Regions from separate parts of the Homo sapiens genome. Here region 1 is linked to region 2. A link means that fine-mapping ties the variant in region 2 to the expression of a gene that starts in the linked region. Tissue or cell type: whole blood. Region 2 holds a variant in brackets; the other region holds the start of a gene. All regions are shown on one strand. Distances are between the middles of the regions.

Region 1 (10,051 bases), 26 kb before region 2:
TTTAGACAGGGTCTTGCTCTGTTGCCCAGGCTGGAGTGTGGTGGCATGGGCTCAAGTGATCCTCCCACCTCAGCCTCCCGAGTAGCCGGGACTACAGGCGCACACCACCATGCCTGGCTATTTTTTTGTATTTTTGGTAGAGACTAGGTTTCACCATGTTGGCCAGGCTGGTCTCGTATTCCTGGGCTCAAGTGATCTAACTGCCTCAGCCTCCCAAAGTGCTAGAATTATAGGCATGAGCCACTGCGCCCAGCTAGCCTCTGGATTCTTAAGGTATATTGGCTTGTAGTTTTCGTTTCTTGTGTCTTTATCTGGCTTTAGTATCAGAGTAATGCTGGTTTCTTAAAATGAGTTAGGAAGTGTTTCCTCCTCTCCTATTTTTGGAAGAGTTTGAGAATGATTGGTGGTAATTTATTTTTAAATGTTTGGTAGAAAACACCGCATGTTCTCACTCATAAGTGGGAGTTGAACAATGAGAACACATTGACGCAGGGAAGTGAACATCACCCACCAGGGCCTGTCAGGTGGTGGGGGCTAGGGAAGGGATAGCATTAGGAGAAATACCTAATGTAGGTGGCGGGTTGATGGGTGCAGGAAACCAGCATGGCACGTGTATACCTATGTAACAAAACTGCACATTCTGCACTGTACCCCAGGACTTAAAATATAATAAAAAAATATAATAAATACAATAAATAAAAGTCTCCAAGAAAGAAAAAAATGTTTGGTAGAATTTACTGTAAAACTATTAGGCCTGGACTTTACTTGTTTGGAGGAGTTTTGATTATTAATTCAATTTCTTTACTTGTTGTAGGTATGTTCAGATTTTCTATTTCTCATTGAGTGAATTAGGTAAATTTTGCGTGCCTGGGAATTTGTCCATATCCTCTAGGTTACCTAATTGGTTGGCAAACAATTGTTCATAGTTTTCTCTCATAGTCCTTTTTATTTCTGTAAGGTAGATAGTAAGGTCCCCACTTTCATTTCTGATTTAAGTTATTTTCATCTTCTTTTTGTTTTAGTTTAGCTAAGGATTCGTCAATTTTATTAATCTTTTCAAAGAACTAACTTTCAGTTTCATTGATTTTCTCTTTTCTGATCTTGGTAATTTCCTCCCTTCTGCTAGTTTTGGGTTTGATTTGTTCTTCTTTTACTAGTTCCTTAAAGGGTAGAGTTGGGATAATGATTTGAGATCTCTCTCTCTCTTTTTTTTTTTTTTTTTTTTGAGATGGAGTCTCACTCTGTCACCCAGGCTGGAGTGCAGTGGCATGATCTTGGCTCACTACAACCTCTGCCTCCTGGGTTCAAGCGATTCTCCTGCCTCAGCCGCCTGAGTAGCTGAGATTACAGGTGCCCGCCATCACGTCGGGCTATTTTTTTTTTTTTTTTTTTTGTATTTTTAGCAGACGGGGTTTCACCGTGTTGGCCAGGCTGGTCTTGAACTCCTAACCTCGTGATCCACCCGCCTCAGCCTCCCAAAGTGCTGGGATTACAGGCATGAGCCACGGCACCAGGCCTCTCTCTTTTTCTCTTTTGTAGCCATGTAGCTATAAATTATCCTTTGAGAACTGTTTTTGCTGCATCCCCTAAGTTTTGGCATGTTGTATCTTTTATTTGTCTCGAAGTATTTTCTAATTTCCCTTGTGATTTCTTCTTTGTCCCACTAGTTGTTTAAGTGTATGTTGTTTAATTTCTGCATATTTGTGAATATTCCAGTTCTCTTTCTGTTATTTATTTCTAGTTTTATTCTATTGTGGTCAAAGAAGATGCTTTGTATGATTTTGATCTGTTTAAATTTATTGAGCAAAATATATCTTCATTTCTCTTGAGAAAATGTCCTTTTTGACTCATGAATTATTTAGAAGCATATTATTTGACATGTGATTTGCAAACATTTTCTCCCAATCTGTAACTTGTCTTTTCATCCCCTTAAAAGGGTCTTTGCAGAGCAAGTTTCAAATTTTGATCAAGTCTGATTTATCATTTTTTAATTTTAAGAATAATGGCTTTGGGGCCAGGCGCAGTGGCTCATGCCTGTAATCCCAGCACTTTGGGAGGCCAAGGCAGGTAGATCACTTGAGGTCAGGAGTTCGAGACCAGCCTGGCCAACATGCTAAAACTCCATCTCTACTAAAAATACAAAAAAAAACTAGCCAAGCGTGGTGGCACATGCCTGTAGTCCCAGCTTGTTGGAAGGCTGAGGCAGGAGAATTGTTTGAGCCCTGGAGGTGGAGGTTGCAGTAAGCTGAGATCACAGCACTGCACTACAGCCTGGCAACAGAGGGAGACTCCGTCTCAAAAAAAAAAAAAAGAAAGAAAAAGAAAAGAAGAAAGAATAATAATGGCTTTGATGTTATGCCTAAGAATTCTTCGCCTAGCCTTAGGTTCTGAAGATTTTCTTCTACATGTTCTACAAGTTTTTTTTTTTTTCAAATGTTTGTGATTTTTTTTTTCAAATGGCAACTCCAAGATAAAGCCAAAGAAACTGGGAATTATTTTTAATATTGTACAATTTTTAGTATGAATAGCCATTCTTATTAAATAGACTCATTTGGCCAGGCAAGGTGGCTCAAGCTCGTAATCCCAACACTTTGGGGGGCCAAGGCATGAGGATTGCTTGAGTTCAGAAGTTCAAGATCAGCCTCAGCAACACAGGGAGACCTCTGTCTCTACTAAAAATAAAAACATTTTAAAGGGCTCATTTAAACTTTTTTCTTTTCTTTTTTTTTTTTTTTTTTTTTGAGACGGAGTCTCACTCTGCCACCCAGGCTGGTGTGCAATGGCGCGATCTCGGCTCACTGCAAGCTCCGCCTCCTGGGTTCACATCGTTCTCCTGCCTCAGCCTCCCGAGTAGCTGGGACTACAGGCACCCGCCACCACATCCGGCTAATTTTTTTTTGTATTTTTAGTAGAGATGGGGTTTCACCGTGTTAGCCAGGATGGTCTTAATCTCCTGACCTCGTGATCCGCCCACCTCGGCCTCCCAAAGTGCTGGGATTACAGGCGTGAGCCACTGCGACCGGCCCTAAACTTTTTTCAAACATTTACATTTTCTCAACAGGAAATGTCCTTTCATTCTGCACAGTTCTCTCTGCTTTCTTCTAAAAGGTTCCTTGTTTTACATTTTACATTTAAATCTCTGATCCATTCAGGCAATTTTTGCATAGAATATGAGGTTTAGGTGAAGTTCATTTTTTTGTTCAGTTACTCCACCACCATTTGAACACCACCTATCTGGCAAAGGATTAATATCTAGAATATTTAAACTCTCAAAACTCAAGTTTTTTAAAAAGAATTCAACTAAAAATGGGCAAAAGACATGGACAGACATTTCACCAATGAGGCTATACAGATGGCAAACAAGCACATGAAAACATGTCCATCATCACCAGGCACTAAAGAAATGCCAATTAAAACCATGATGAGACCAGGCGCAGTGGCTCATGCCTATAATCCCAGCACTTTGGGAGGCCAAGGTGGGTGGATCACCTGAGGTCAGGAGTTCGAGACCAGTCTGGCCAATATGGCGAAACGCTGTCTCTACTAAAAATACAAAAAATAGACAGGTGTGGTGGTGCACGCCTGTAGTCCCAGCTACTTGGGAGGCTGAGGCTGGAGAATCGCTTGAACCCAGGAGGTGGAGGTTGCAGTGAGCTGAGATGGCGCCACTGCACTCCAGCCTGGGCAACAGAGTAAGACTCTATCTCAAAACAAAACAAAACAAAAAACCATGATGATATATCACTATTCACCTGTTAGAATAGCTAAAAATTCAGGCAGGGACAAAATAAAATGCTGCTGAGGATGCAGAGAAACTGAATGTCTTGTACATTGATGGTGGGACAGTAAAAAAAAAAAAAAAGAAAAGAAAAGAAAAAAACTTCCAAAAGGTTATACATTGTATGATTTTGTTTATAGCAGATCAGTATACCCATCCTGCAGCTGCTATGAGTGTTGACAGCTAAACACTCACACAGCTTCCCCCTCGTCCAGAAGAATTGCCCTGGGCAGAAAGGAGGCTGCCTCTTGTTCCAGACCTTCACATTCCAGACCTCCCCATGGAGCCTCCACTGACTACATACTTGTTTCACTTTTTCTTCCTCTGCCCTATCATACCCACCACTCTCCTAAGAGTCTTCCTTCAATAAATCACAGGCACCTGTGTTACTTGTTGAAGGTGTCCAGGTTCTTGGCATCTTGAACAAAGAAATGGGCAAAATGCACAAAGCAAGGAAAGAATGAGGCAACAAAAGCAGAGATGTATTGAAAACAAAGGTACACTCCACAGGGTGGGAGCCAGCGTGAGCATAGGGGCTCAAGAACTCCGTTACAGAATTTTCTGGGATTTAAATACCCTCTAGAGGCTCCCATTGGTTAATTGGTGTACACCCTATGTAAATGAAGAAGATGAAGTGAAGTTGCTCAGTCACTTACTCAGTGAACGCCATATGTAAATGAAGAAAATATTTCCTGTCATAGCTGAAATGTGTCCATTTTATTTAGTTCTAAGAAGTCAGCGTGAATCAGCTTTATGTTCCCTGCCTGCAGACCCTATTCTCCTGCCTCACCTCAATCTCTTCACCTAAGACAGGAAGAAAACTGATGATGCAGGAGACGAAGAACAATAGCAAGGCGAAGAAATGAATCTCCAAGGCCGGCTTCAAGCGATTCTCCCCTCTCAGGCTCCCGAGTAGCTGGGATTACAGGCATGCACCACCACGCCTGGCTAATTTTTGTATTTTTAGTAGAGACAGGGTTTCCCCATGTTGGCCAGGATGGTCTTGAACTCCTGACCTCAGGTGATCTGGCCACCTCCGCCTCCCAAAGTGCTGGAATTACAGGCATGAGCCACCACACCCAGCTCCCAGTTCTGTTCTTTTAGAGGCAAATAGTCTGTTGAGTAAATGCATAACACTACTTAGACTTTCTAGCTGAAGATGTAGTTAATCTTAAGAAAACCTGACTCACACTGTAACAGGATGTTCTGCAATGACCTTAGAAGAGGAAGTGACTTTTTTCCCACTTTGGTGTCTCTTCCCTCGTACCCTCCCCACCCCGCCAATATTATCCAGCACAGAGAAGCAAACACCAGAAGCTTCTCTCCAACTTTCAGTTTTTCTCTAAACTTCCAGTCCTTCTCATACTGTGTCCTGGTTATAATAGTTGCTGGGACCTTATTCTATTCTGAATCCCCAGCCCCTAAAGAAGGCTTGGTACTGACGTGTACAGCGTAGTTACCCAGTGACTTTGGGGAAGGCAGGAAGAGTGTGGAAAGGACAGGAGGAAGGAAGGGAGGGGCCGTGGCTCCGAGCTGCCTAGAAAGCGGCTCCAGGGAGCCAGGGCACCGTGAGCCTGGTGGTTGGCAGCTGGAGCCACGTCGGAGGGGGAAGTGTCGCAGCATTCTCTGCAGGCATCACAGACCTGAGGCAGTGGCCTCCGGAGGGCACTGGACAGAAACAGCCATCCAAGTGGCTGAGTGGAGGGACCCTGCTCAAGTGCAGCTGCAGTGGCCGGGGTTTCCCTCAGGTAGGGATCGGGGCGCCTTGTCGCCGCCAGCCACGTGTGGCGTCCGGTACAGTCAGCAGAGTGCAGGGTGCGGGCACCAGGAAAGGGGGCGCAGGGGAACTCCCGCGGGCCTCGCGTTTGCAAACTTCTCGCCTGGGCAGGAGGCGGTCGTGGGAAAGAAGGTGGAAGAGCGAGCTTTTTGGAACTGTGCACGGGACAGATTGGACGCACACCCCTCGGGAGGCGCGAAGGTGAGCATGGGGTCTTCCCAGGAGGCGGCGGGGCCGAGGGGCTGCAGCCGAATTCCTGGACGGTGATGGGAAGAACCAGGGGTGAGGGTGGCCCGGTCCGAGTTCCTGGAACTCAGGACCGAGTTGGTTTCATTTCCTCAGCTCTGATGGTGGAGCTGCCTGCTCGGATCTCGCACTACCTTCCGCCAAAGCGAGACGCCCAGTAGCAGTGGGGGTCGTGGAGGGCAGGGGCACGGGAACAAGTTACCTGATGTCTTCTCAGAAAAAGGAAGTCTTCAGGTTTGCAGGCTGAAGGCGTGAGAGAGAGACAGAGTGAGAGAGAGAGAAGAGGGAAATGCCTGATAACCTTTACTTATTTTATTTTATTTTTATTTTTTATTTTTTGGAGGGAAGAGGTGAATTTGCATTGTTATTACCATTTAAAGATTTTTCACTTTTAAAATTAGTAACCTGTTTTCTCATCGTAACATATGAACATAATCCCCTTTTTCTTTTTATTTATTTATTTTGAGAGATGGAGTCTTCCTCTGTTGCCCAGGCTGGAGCGCAGTGGCACAATCATAGCTCACTGCAGCCTCCGAACTCATGGGCTCAAGTGATCCTCCAACCAGATCCTCCCAAGTAGCTAGGACTACAAGGTGCACATCACCACACCCAATTAAATTTTTTTTGTATTTTTTGGTAGAGCCAGGGTCTCGCTTTGTCACCCAGGCTGGTCTCAAACTCCTGGGCTCAGGTGATCCTCCTACCTCACCCTCCCAAAGTGCTGGGATTACAGGTGTGAGCCACTGCAGCTGGCCTGAACATATTCTTAGCTGTTTGTTTTACATATTATAAATAGCACTGCAGTGAACATCTCGGTAGCCATCTATCTACAAACACAAGCTTTTCTACATCATAAGTTCCTAGAAATTCAAATTGCCCAGTCTAAGTGTGTATATATGTATATTCCCTTTCTTCCCTTGTAGATCATATACTTAATAAGACCTTAAACAATTTAAGTTATTGTAGGGTGCTTTTTCCCAATATTTTGCAGTTTTTAATATATTTTAATTTCATACAGGCAAGTCCCCTTTTCTTTATTTTTTAAAATCCTGGTTATCCCTACTAATTTCCCATTTCAAATGAACTTTAGGATCATTTTGATTTAATGCCAAAATATGTCAGTAGATGTTTTATTGGAACTGCATTAAATTGGATTTAAATTTGGGAAGGATTGCTGGGTTGGTCTGTTTTAGTCTTCCCAGCCAGAAATATAACACTTCTCTTTCCTCCTTTCTTCAAGCTTTGTTTTGTGCAATTTTCTTTCTTTCTTTTTTTTTGTTTTTGTTTTTGTTTTTGAGACGGAGTTTTGCTCTGTTGCCCAGGTTGGAGCACAGTGGTGTGATCTCGGCTCAGTGCAACCTCCACCTCCCGGGTTCAAGCAATTCTCCTGCCTCAGCCTCCCGAGTAGCTGGGATTACAGGCGCCTGCTACCATGCTTGGCTAATTTTAGTATTTTTAGTAGAGATGGGGTTTCACCATGTTGGCCGGGCGATCTCAAACTCCCGACCTCAGGTGATCCACCTGCCTCGGCCTTCCAAAGCGCTGAGATTACAGGCATGAGCCAATGTGACCGCTGCAATTTTCTTCATACCATGCCACCACTGTATAATTTATTATTTGAAATTGTTTGTCAGTTCTATGGGTGGGATATTTTCCCCATTTTCCTTTCTGATTAGTTCAGTGCTGAGATATGGCTTTCTGATGAGGCTGCTGGTAAGATAACTGGAGCTTAGAGCTAGGAAGCTACAATTTGCAAGATTCCTTGAACAACATTGCCACATTTGCTTCTGTTTCTGGTGCAACAGAGAAAGTGTAAAACCTTTTGCCCTCACAATTCCCAAGAAATGGCCTTGAAGATATCTGCTTAGCACGTGGGAATAGCTGGGTAGTCTGAGATCCACTAGTCTTTTTAGGAGTGCCCTAATAACTGTTACCTCCCTTGCCCAATCACTGTAACTCTCAGGCAACAAAAACACAACTATATCGATTGCTCATTTATTTAGTTTCACTTCTGCCAGTGCCTTACTCATGTTTTAAAGCCATACTTGGGCTCCAGGCCAATTATTTTCTCCAAGCTGCTAATTAATCCATAAACTGGCGATAATACTTAACCTACCTATTTCACTGAGCTGTTAAAAAAAAAAAAACTAACTTTGTTTTTTGTTGTCGTTTGTTAGTGGTGGTGGTGGTGGTGTTTTTGAGACACTGTCTCATTCTGTTGCCCATGCTGGAATGGAGTCAGTGGCACAATCATGGCTCACTGCAGCCTCGACCTCCCAGCCTCAATCAATTCTCCCTCCTCAGGCTCCAGAGTAGCTGGGACTACAGGCAAGCACCACCACATCCAGCAAATTTTTGTATTTTTTTGTAGAGACAGGGTTTCACCATGTTGCCCAGGCTGGTCTCGAACTCAGGCTCATACGATCCCCTGGCCTCAGCCTCACAAAGTGCTGGGATTACAGGTTTGAGTCATGACACCCTACCCTAACTTTATTTTAAATACTTTGAAAACTGGTTCCATGGCCTTGTGATTATTTGAATGCAACCTCCCTGAACCGCAGCATCTTCACTTTTCACCTGTTTGTTTTTTCGAGACAGGGTCTCTCTGTTTCCCTGGCTGGAGTGCAGTGGTGTCATCATAGCTCACTGCAGCCTCAACCTCCCAGGCTCAAGCGATTCTCCCGCCTCAGCCTCCTGAGTAGCTGGGACTACAGGTCCCAGCTAATTTTTGTATTTTTAGTAGAGATGGGTCTCGCTGTGTTGCCCAGAATGGAACTCCTGGCCTCAAGCAATCTTCCCACCTCTACCTCCCAAAATGTTGGGATTACGGGTATGAACTACTGTGCCCAGATGGTATCTTCATCTGTTAAATGAAAATAACCATGGAGAGCTGGGGGTTCCAAAGCACTTAGGATGTAGTAGGTGAATTGAGAGATCTAGTGTCATAATTATTATCATCATTCATTGCTGAACGCAGTCGGCTTCAGTTGCAAATAAAGCAAACATGATTCAAACTGCCTTAAACAATCAGGGAGGTTATTGGTTCATGAAACCTGCAGTTAGGGGATGGGGTACACTTCATGTCAGTTCAAACCAGTGGCTCAATGTTGTCATCAAAGACTCAGATTCTTTCTCCCTTTCCATTCTACCATGCTCAGGTTAGCCTCATTCCAAGCTTTAGGATCAGGGCTCTGTGCTTCCTCACTCATGTTCAGAGAAGAGAGAGAGGTTAAGAGTAGGAAGCTGGCACTGCAGCCTCAACCTCCTGGACTCAAGGAATCCTCCTATCTCAACTTCCCAGGTAGCTGAGACTACGGGTGTGTGCCACCACACCAGGCTAACTTATATATATAATATATATGTAATATTATATATATGTATTACTATATATATGTAATATTATATATATGTATTACTATATATGTAATATTACATATATATTACTATATATATGTAATATTATATATATTACTATATATATGTAATGTATTACATTTTTTTGAGATGGTGCAACCTCCACCCCCTGGGTTCAAGCAATTCTCCTGGCTTAGCCCTCCGAGTAGCTGGGATTACAGGCATGCACCACCACACCTAGCTAATTTTTGTATTTTTAGTAGAGACGGGGTTTCACCATGTTGGCCAGGCTGGTTTCCAACTCCTGACCTCAAGTGATCCGCCCACCTCAGCCTTCCAAAGTGCTGGGATTACTGGCGTGAGTCACCGCGCCCAGCCAATTTTATATTTTATTTATTTCATTTTATTTTATTTTATTTTTTTTATTTTTGTAGAGAAAGGGTCTCACTTTGCTGTCCAGACTGGTCTGGAACTCCTGGCCTCAAGCAATCCTCCTGTCTCTTCCTCTCAAAGTGCTGGGATTATCGGTGGGAGCCACCTCGCCCAGCTGCATTTTTCTTAAAGGACTGTAGGAAGAAACTGAACAATTTTTTGTAGGAAAAATGAAAGATAGTCCACATGTTTTAAAAAAAAACAGAAAGAAACATATTTATCTGTGGCAGTAAAGACTACCTCAGCTCACTTCACTCATTTGAATTACCCGCCTGGCCCCTGAAACCTCTATGCTTTAGCAGGATATATCTGTAATAGACGAAACTGATATAAACATATCAACCTGAAAATATTAACGGTTTACATGCAATACAAGTTTATTCCTTGATCACTTAACAGTCCATGACAGACGTTCCAGGTCTGTGGGCAGCTCTCCTCCAAGTGATTATCCAGGGACTCAGGAC
Region 2 (10,051 bases):
CGCCATCCTACTTCCTGTACTCCCTCAACCATTTCTCCTGGGAGCACCTTCTTTTTGTTTGTTTGGGGGACTTTTGGAGTTATTTTTTTTTTGAGACAGAGCCTCATTTTGCTGCCCAGGCTGGAGTATAGTGGCGTGATCTCGGCTCACTGCAAACTCCACCTCCTGGGTGCAAGTGATTCTCATGCTTTAGCATCCTGAATAGCTGGAATTACAGGCACATGCCACCACGCCCAGCTATTTTTTTGTATTTTTATTAATAGTAGAGATGATGTTTCACCATGTTGGCGAAGCTGGTCTCAAACTCCTGACCTCAAGTGATCCATCCACCTTGGTCTCCCAAAGTGTGGGGATTATAAGCGCAAGCCACCATGCCTGGTCAAGGGAGCACCTTCTTGATACAAATCCCTCGTGCCCAAATCATGGCTCATGATCTGCTTCTGGGAGAATCTGAGCTCAGGCAGACACCATGAGTGCAACCCAACCTGGGACGCAGGGGCTTTGTGAAACCAAAGCCCTTGTCTGGAAGTCAGCGGGACCCCAGCTTCACATTCTGCTTTGACCTGAAGGGTCCCAGCAAGGTCCAGCCACCCAGCCATGCCTCTGAGCTCTCGGATCTGCCCAGCACTTCCCAGGCAAAGCAACACAGAGGCAACGTTGTCCTTCTCTACCTAAAGGCACCCCTGATGCCCGATTGCATGCACTTCATAAGGGCTGTCATGCCCCCTTGTGCTATGAATCTCATCTCTGTTCTATACTCACGGCTTGTGATTCTCAAACCTTGCCTCTACATCCCAGTTTTTCCTGTGTAACTGTGGACAGGCACCCATGGTACTGTCCAGCCTCATCAGCCCAGTTATGATTGTCAGTCCCCCAAAGAAAGTTTGGGCAAAGGTACTTATGCTCCCCGCCTTTGGCTGTGTCAGGCTACACCATTCAGAAGCACCTGAACTCCACGGAAAAATCAGAAGCTCAAACTTCCTGGTAACTCAAGGCTACCAAGTGAAGGTGAGTGTGCCTTGCGGGGGCGCTTTGGGTCAAACCTGCATGACTGGTGCTATGAGAGGGGCACGAGTGTCTCAGAAAGGCTTGATTCTTGTCTTAGTTTATTTATTTATTTATTTAGAGACAGAGTCTCTTTCTGTCACCCAAGCTGGAGGGCAGTGAGCGAGATCGCCCCGCTGCAACCTCTGCTTCCCAGGTTCAAGCGATTCTCCTGCCTCAGCCTCCCAAGTAGCTGGGATTACAGCCATGCACCACCACTCCTGACTAATTTTTGCATTTTTAGTAGAGACAGGGTTTCACCATGTTGGCCAGCTGGTTTTGAACTCCTGGCCTCAAGTGATCCGCCCACCTGGGCCTCCCAAAGTGCTGGGATTACAGGCATGAGCCACCATGCCCGGCCTTGCCTTGGTTTTAGAACTGAGTTCAATTTTAGTTTTTTAGTTTCAGAACTAACTTCAACTTTCTGTGTGCCCACCACACAACAGTCTCCATCTATGCCGCCTGTTCTGATGACTGCCTTCCCTCACTGCCCATTTAGCAGGGATGGGCTACAAGTCATTTCCCCTTAGATGCCTGGACACCACTTCTATGTCCCTACAACATACAATGGGGGATCTTGTTAGGTTTAAGGACTCAGACTCACAGGACAGGTCTAGGCCACACTTGTCATTCAGTTACTTAGAAGGATGTCAGCAGCGCCAAACCTTTCCCTCCAGGGTGAGTCCTCGCAGTCATCCAGGAGATACTCTCTTTGTCAGAGCCACAGGTGCTGGAGAAAGAGGCTCCCATTAGGTGGGTGTGGGTCATCCAGGCTTAGAAGCCCATGACCTGCAGGAGTCAGCATCTCTGGTAACAACTCTGCAGGCATGCCTTCCAGTGTTTCTGCAAGTGACATGTGAGTTGCTGTTTTAAGAGCTGCCACATCTGGGTATGGTGGCTCACGCCTGTAATCCCAACACTTAGGGAGGCTAAGGCGGGTGGATCACCTGAGGTCAGGAGTTCAAGACTAGCCTGGCCAACATAGTGAAACACTGTCTCTACTAAAAATACAAAAAATTAGCCGGGTGTGGTGGCGCACGCCTCTAGTCCCAGCTCCTAAGGAGGCTGAGGCAGGAGAATCACTTGAACCCGGGAGGCAGAGGTTTGCAGTGAGCCGAGATCGCGTGGTTGAACTCCAGCCCGGGCAACAACAGCAAAACTCCATCTCCAAAAAAAAAGAAAAAAGAAAAGAAAAGAGCTGCTACATGGCCAGGCATGGTGGCTTATGCCTGTAATCCCCGCACTTTGGAAGGGAAGGCAGGAGGATCACTTTGAGCCCAAGAGTTCAAGACCAGCCTTGGCAACACAGTGAGACCTCCCCCTCTTCAAAAAATTTAAAAATCAGCCAGTCATGGTGGTGCACACCTGTAATTCCAGCTACTCAGGAGAGTGAGGCAGGAGGAGGATGCCTAGAGCCCAGGAGGTCAAGGCTGCAGGGAGCTATGTTTACGCCACTGTATACCCTAGCCTGGGCAACAGAATGAGACCCTGTCTCAAAAAATAAAAAAGAGGCTGGGCGCGGTGGCTCACACCTGTAATCCCAGCACTTTGGGAGGCCAAGGCAGGTGGATCATGAGGTTAGGAGATCGAGACCATCCTGGCTAACACAGTGAAACCCTGTCTCTACTAAACAATACAAAAAATTGGCCAGGCGTGGTGGCAGGTGCCTGTAGTCCCAGCTACTCCGGAGGCTGAGGCAGGAGAATGGCATGAACCCAGGAGGCAGAACTTGCAGTGAGCTGAGATTGCACCACTGCTCTCCAACCTGGGCGACAGAGTGAGACTCCGTCTCAAAAAATAAATAAATAAATAAATAAATAAGAAAAATTTGCTACAAAGCATTCCCATCAGCTGTTTACTGTGTAGTCCTGTTACCCCCTTGATCCTGCCCAGAAGCAATCTAACAATCAGCAGTCATTTTTATTTTCATCATCAGCAATGTTACTAAGAGCCATAGGTGACAGTCTACCTGTATCAGATTTCCAGGGGAACAGAGCTAAGAAGTTCACTGGAAGTCAGATTTTCATACAGAAGAGGAAAAGATTTTGTGAACTCAGTGTCCACAATTCCCAAATGCTAAAAGAATTTTAGCAGTTTTCTTTGTCATCCATAGACGGTTTTCTTTCTTCCAGTCCTACGAGTGTCAGAGACAGCCCTCAAATAATAGCAGACAGGCCTTTTTTGCCTTTCAGATGCCTTTCCCCCTCTGCGATGGTGATATAAGTACTCCCAAAACACTGTTTCTACTACTCTCACGCTCTTCATGCAGCCTGACTATAAGATGCGCTATTCCACCTTTCATCCCTGGTATCCCATACGGCGCTAGATGTAAGAGAATGTCAGTGCTCAGGAAACGTGTGAGCAAATGAATGAATGAATGAATGAAAGGGGGATGAGCCATCTAAGTGCCTTATCCCTTTTCTCACATTGCCCCTAGATTTGGGTACCTGGCTGAGTTTGGGGCTGGCAGCCTTCAGCACACCAATGGTGTCAATGGCAGGTGTGCATGGGACAAGAACATATGCTGTCATGATTGTGCTACAGTTTCTTTAAGAACACCAGGTGACCGCGCAGGCCTGGGGGGATGACTCACACTCGTCACGCCAAAGCCAAAGGATCAGGCTGACCCCCCATAAAGTCAGATAGCACAGAGGGGATGCCCCCATGCCATTTTTCCATCTGCTTCTTTGGGAAAAGGCGAGCCAGGCAGTGGCTCTATGACCCCTCTCCACTCTCACTGAGTGGAGTTCAGTCCTCAACTGAGAAACCCCTACATTTTAACATAGTCATACTGGCAACAACTACAACTTAGCAGGTCTTACTGGTGCTTTATAACCATTATCTCAAGTAATCCCCCCTGTCATCGCCCCATTTTATACAGAAGAAATCTCTTTGTGTTTCTCTTGGTCACTGCACTGTGATAAGTTGAACCCATAATGTTAACCAATAAAGTAGCCACACAGACAGAAGTCACGACAGGAAATAAATCCCTAAGGTAAAAGACAATTCCCTGGCAATTGTGTGTAGCAACAATCCCTGCCCTTTACTCCTCTACCCAAGATCTTGCTTGTTTCTTTCTAAGTTGCCTCTCTATCTAGCTTGCAGGATTTGAGTTGAGGAAAACACAGACTTCCATGAGTTTGGGAACTACGAGAGAAAAGACAGA[CAGAG/G]TCAAATCTACAGCATATCTCTCACCTCAGGAACTGGAAGATGTATTTTATCAATATGATGTAAAGTCTGAAATATACAGGTACACTCACGTTCTGGTACAGATTCTAACTCAGATGTGCATAATAGGAAAACCCAAATCAAACTCCTCCAAGGACCACCTAAACTCAACTCTGTTGAATGAAATTGGGTAGTAATCAAAAAATTCACTGAGTTTTCTGGCAGTGGCTAGAGGGACAGGGGAAAGGGGAGACTAGTTATGGTTGTTCAGTTTCTTGGTTTTCTTTTAGCTTTGGAATCGTCCTCTGGGAAATCGCCACTGGAGATATCCCGTTTCAAGGTGAAGAATGTGAAGACTGGCTCAGCCAGTGGTGAGGTTGGGTCCCCTTCCAGTAGACCAGAAATTCCCCATCAGTGCTGCCCCTGGCAATTTGTTGTTTAATGTGGGAACTGCCTGGGCTGGTCAGTGGAATCGTTGGAAGTTCTTGTTGTTTCCATACTCAGAGTCCCTAGTTCTGATGCCAGCCATCAGCATCCAGAGAGATGTACGAGTAGCGGAGCAATTTTTTGAGGCTCTCATGCTATCATTTCCAGGCTGTAATTCTGAGAAGATCCGCAAGCTGGTGGCTGTGAAGCGGCAGCAGGAGCCACTGGGTGAAGACTGCCCTTCAGAGCTGCGGGAGATCATTGATGAGTGCCGGGCCCATGATCCCTCTGTGCGGCCCTCTGTGGATGGTAGGGTTCTTTCTGGTGTAAAGAGCGTGAGCCCCATCATTATTTCACACTTGTGAAAGATTTCCTTTTCACCAGCTCCAAGGCAGTAGTTTACAACGAGGGGTGGTTTTATCCGGGGAACATTTAGTGATGTCTGAAACATTGTTGTTTGTCATAAGGCCAGGGAGGTAGGATGGAGTGTGCTACTGTCATCTAGTGAATAAAGGCCAAGGATGATGGCTGGGTGCGGTTGCTCATGCCTGTAATTCTAGCCCTTTGGGAGGCTGAGATGGGCAGATCACTTGAGGTTAGGAGTTTGAGACCAGCCTGGCCAACATGGTGAAACCTCATCTCTACTAAAATTAGCTAGCCATGGTGGTACATGCCTGTAATCCCAGCTACTCAGGAGGCTGAGGCATGAGAATCTCTTGAAACTGGGAGGTTGCAGTGAGCCAAGATCACGCCACTGTACCACTGCACTCCAGCCTGGGTGACAAAACAAGACTCCGTCTCAAAAAAAAAAATGTTGGCCAGGCGCGGTGGCTCATGCCTATAATCCCAACATTTTGCGAGGCCAAGGTGGGTGGATCGCCTGAGCTCAGGAGTTTGAGACCACCCTGGCCAGCATGATGAAACCTCGTCTCTATTAAAAACCCAAAAATTAGCCAAGTATATTGGCGCATGCCTGTAGTCCCAGCTACTCAGGAGGCTGAGGCAAGAGAATCACTTGAACCCAGGAGGCAGAGGTTGCAGAGTCAGGATCACGCCACTGCGCTCCAGCCTGGACAACAGGGCAAGACTCCATCTCAAAAAAAAAAAAAAAAGAATGCTATTCAACATCCTACAACGCATAGGACAGCCCACCACACAAAGAACTCTCTGGCAGCCCCAATGTCAATAGTGTAAGGGCTTCCAGAGGGCATTGTTTTATCCAAAGTGGGTTGGAAAGGCAGATTACTTTCTTCCTGCCTATTTCCTTCCTTTATTTATCTGTCTGCCTATTTATGGTTTTTTTTTTTTTTTTTTTTAGAGAGGAGGTCTCATTATGTTGCCCAGGCCAGAGTGCAGTGGCTATTGACAGGTAGGATCATGGCACTCTATAGCCTCAAACTCCTGGGCTCAAGTGATCCTCCTGCCTTAGTCTCTAGAGTAGCTAGGACAACAGGCACCACCACAGCAGCATTATCTTGTTGTCTTTTTGTCTTTCTATCTCTCTTCTTTTTCCTCTCTCTTGTTTTATTTTTGACTATCTTTCTCCTTTTTTCCTCCCTCCTTGTCTGCCTTCCTTCCTTTTTTCAGCATCCTTGGGATTATTTCCTCGATGCAGACTTTTATCTCACCATGTCATCAGCTGCTTCTCCATAGCTTCCTTACACTGTCTCCCTCCCTGGAAGCATCTCTCTCTCATACCCTAGACCTAAATCTCCCAGACTTTCCACAAAGCCCAGACAAAAGAGAGAAGGGGCCGGGTGCAGTGGCTCACACCTGTAATCTCAGCACTTTGGGAGGCTGAGGCAGGCAGATCACTTGTGGTCAGGAGTTCAACACCAGCCTGGCCAACATGGTGAAACCCTATCTCTACTAAAAATACAAAAAATAGCTGGGCATAGTGGCACACACCGGTAATCCCAACTACTCAGGAAGCTGAGGCAGGAGAATTGCTTGAACCCCAGAGGCAAAGGTTGCAGTGAGCCAAGATCGCGCCACTGTACTCCAGCCTGGGTGACAGAGCAAGACTCTGTCTCAAAAGAGAAAGAAAGAAAAGAAGAAGGAACTAAAGAGCCATGAGTCCAGACTTTTGAGGCAGCTTCCAAGGATGTTCTGTCTGCTTACAGAAGTCTTGAGCATGAGGACTGTTCTTCAAGGCCTTCTCACAGATGGTCTGTTGGGAAAACCTCTCACACTACCTGAGAGGGTCTCATCTGTCATCTCTCCTCTCCCTTCATCCACATCCCTACCTTTCAGAATGAAGAATCAAAGTCACGGCATAGTTTCTGTCTGAAACTTTCTCTTCACCACCACAGAGCAGAAGCGCAGACTTAATGATGTGTTCTGAAAAATTGGTCTTTGGGGTGGATGAGAAGCCAACAGTGATTTATACAATGCTGTCCTCCACTACACTCTCTCCTCTGTCTTCTTTCTTCTTCTACCAAGCTCCCTTACAACCTAGGGTCCTCCTAGTATTAAGGAATCTAACACCAGAGAGTAATTCATACTAAGATGTGAGTTTACCCCCTCCTGTGAGGTGTTTGTGTTTTAAAAGTTGATCAAGTAAGAGAACTTTATATCCCAAATGTGTGAGTGCTGATGGTGGTTCAGGCACCAGCCAGACCAGGGGGAATGCAGTTTCTAAATGACTGTGCAATGTAGAAATGTCTTTGTGTTTCTAACTTGGCTCTCAGCTGCCTACCCTGGTCTAATTTTCTGTTCATTCATCCACAGAAATCTTAAAGAAACTCTCCACCTTTTCTAAGTAGTGTATCAAAATCTAAACCAAGGAGTCTCTGGACAAGAAGCTGGGAGAGGCACAAACTGGACATCTCTCTCTCTCATATCCTTCGGCATTGGGTTATCTATGGGTGCAAGGAGTGGGCACGCTTCTCTGTTACAAATAGAAAACGATTCCAGTCATACAGGACACATCCCACTCCAAATGATATTTCCAAAAACATACCTCTGACAGTAACTTTGATAGATGGTTTGTCAAATGTATCTTTCTGGGTATCCACACCTCTTGGCAATGAAATTTGCAGCTCCTCCCTTCCATAAATGAAGTCTCTTTCCCCACCATTTGAATCTGGGCTGGCACTGTGACTTGATTTGATCAATAGAATGTGGAAGAAGTGACTGTATGCCAGTTCCAAGCCTAGGTTTCAAGAGGCCTTATAAATGTCTGTTGGAACCTTACCCAGCCATGAACATGTTGAGTGAGCATGCTGGAGAATGAGAGACCACATGAAGCAGAAACATGCTTTCCTAGCTGAAGTCATACTAGCCCAACCAACATGGCAGCTAACACATGAATGAGGCCAATCAAGACCAGAAGAACCACTCAAGCAGATCCCAGCCCAAATTGCCCATTCACACAATCAGGAGCTAAATAAATTACTGTTGTCTTAACACTAAGTTTTGTGGTGGTTTTTTACACAACAGAAGTAACTAGGCAGAAACTGTTCAATTCTTCCTCTTGCCCAAGGAATCAAGTACAAACTTCCTATTTGGATATCCATAGCCTTATGGATATCCCCCATACCATACTTTCCAACCTGACTTTCCAATCAGATGCCAGAGTTCTCCTACCAGAGATTGCAAACTCTAATACCCATAGGGCCTAGGAAGGAAACTAAATGAATGATTTGAACCTGGAGGGGGCTTCAGTGGGCAGATGAGCAAGAACAGCGTCTCCTCAACTCCAGTCTATACTTTGTCACATAGAATGGGATCCCAACATTTCTAGAGCTTTCCATTTTGTCAAAAGAGCTAGAAAGTTGGATTTTTCTGTGATGTCCTTATTTTTAAAGGTCAGTATCTCATTAAAAATTATTTTAGGCTGGGCACGGTGACTCATGCCTGAAATCCCAGCGCTTTGGGAGGCCCAGGCGGGAGGATCATCTGAGGTCAGGAGTTCGAGACCAGCCTTGCCAACATGGTGAAGCCCTGTTTCTACTAAAAATACAAAAATTAGCTGGGTGTGGCTGCCACATGCCTGTAATCCCAGCTACTCGGGAGGCTGAGGCATGAGAATCGTTTGAACCTGGGAGGCGGAGGTTGCAGTGAGGCATGATTGCACCACTGCACTCCAGCCTGAGTGACAGAGTGAGACCCTGTCTCAAAAAAAAAATTATTTTAATGCTGATAAGACAAACAAAATATGTCCACATAGGAGCTGCCAGATTTTAATCCCTGCCAGACTCAAACCCATGTTTGTGGTGCTTTCATTCTAGATTTCTTTTTTTAAGACGGAGTCTTGCTCTGTCACGCCCAGGCTGGAGTGCAGTGGTGCAATCTTGGCTCACTGGAACCTCTGCCTCCTGGGTTCAAGCGATTCTCCTGCCTCAGCCTCCTAAGTAGTTGGGATTACAGGTGCTCACCATCACACCCGGCTAACTTTTTGTATTTTTTAGTAGAGATGGGGGTTTCACCATGTTGGTCAGGCTGGTCTCGAACTCCTGACCTCAGGTGATCCACCCGCCTCGGCCTCCTGAAGTGCTGGGATTACAGGTGTGAGCCACCGCGCCCGGCCTAGAGTTTCACTCTTGTTGGCCAGGCTGGAGTGCAGTGGCGCAATCTCGGCTCACTGCAACCTCCGCCTTGCAGGTTCAAGCGATTCTCCTGTCTCAGCCTCCCAAGTGTCTGGGATTACAGGTGTGTGCCACCACACCTGGCTAATTTTTGTATTTTTAGTAGAGACAGCATTTCACCATGTTGGTCAGGCTGGTCTCGAACTCCTGACCTCAAGTGATCTGCCCACCTCGGCCTCCCAAAGTGCTGGGGTTACAGACATGAGCCACCACACCTGGTCTCATTTTAGATCTTATACCTTTGTTCATGGTGTGTGCTTTGCCTAGGATACACTAATCCCTGTCTTTAAAGTTACATTTTTTTCAGAACTCATTCTAAATCATTCAACAGCAAATGTGCTGTCCATTGTTTCAATCACTGAGAAGACAGCAATAAAAATACATTTGGGTCTTGTATTCTAGTAATCATCTCTGGTGAAGAAAATTATGGCTGATTTCTATTACTATTATTATTATTATTATGAGACAGGGTTTCACTGTGTTGCCTAGGCTAGTCTTGAACTTCTGGGCGCAAGTGATACTCCCACCTTGGCCTCCCAAAGTGCTGGGATTACAGGCATAAGCCACCACACTCGGCCTTATGTTTTTATCTTTTACTTATCCTTGATTTTTTTAAAACCTAGAACATGGTTTTTTTCTATAAATAAAAAATGCAGAAGAATATAAACTTAATATGATTATTTTGTAGAACTTACTGGCAGGTATTACTATTTTACTATTTTCCTTCCTTCCTTTTTTCTTTTTTCTTTTTTTTCAGAGGCAGGGTCTGCTGGTCTGGAACTCCTGACCTCAAGGGATCCGCCCACCTTGTCCTCCCAAAGTGC

The links. PIP is the estimated chance that this variant, and not a neighbour inherited with it, causes the effect.
Region 1: MLKL starts here. The variant in region 2 is fine-mapped to the expression of MLKL in whole blood (TOPMed, PIP above 0.99).

Annotation. Positions count from the first base shown.
Region 1 is chr16:74,696,158-74,706,208 of GRCh38, reverse strand. It overlaps MLKL (mixed lineage kinase domain like pseudokinase), which reads left to right and starts at 5,347. Exons shown (of 11, transcript NM_152649.4): 1 at 5,347-5,756. RefSeq lists an enhancer at 5,444-5,893.
Region 2 is chr16:74,669,856-74,679,906 of GRCh38, reverse strand. MLKL (mixed lineage kinase domain like pseudokinase) reads left to right here. Exons shown (of 11, transcript NM_152649.4): 7 at 927-1,008; 8 at 4,143-4,294; 9 at 4,503-4,552; 10 at 4,807-4,947; 11 at 7,369-8,052. The coding sequence ends at 7,403. Among named protein-coding and RNA genes, the nearest start is that of RFWD3, 8.0 kb to the right of the region's middle. The variant CAGAG/G (reference allele first, on the strand shown) is at 4,211.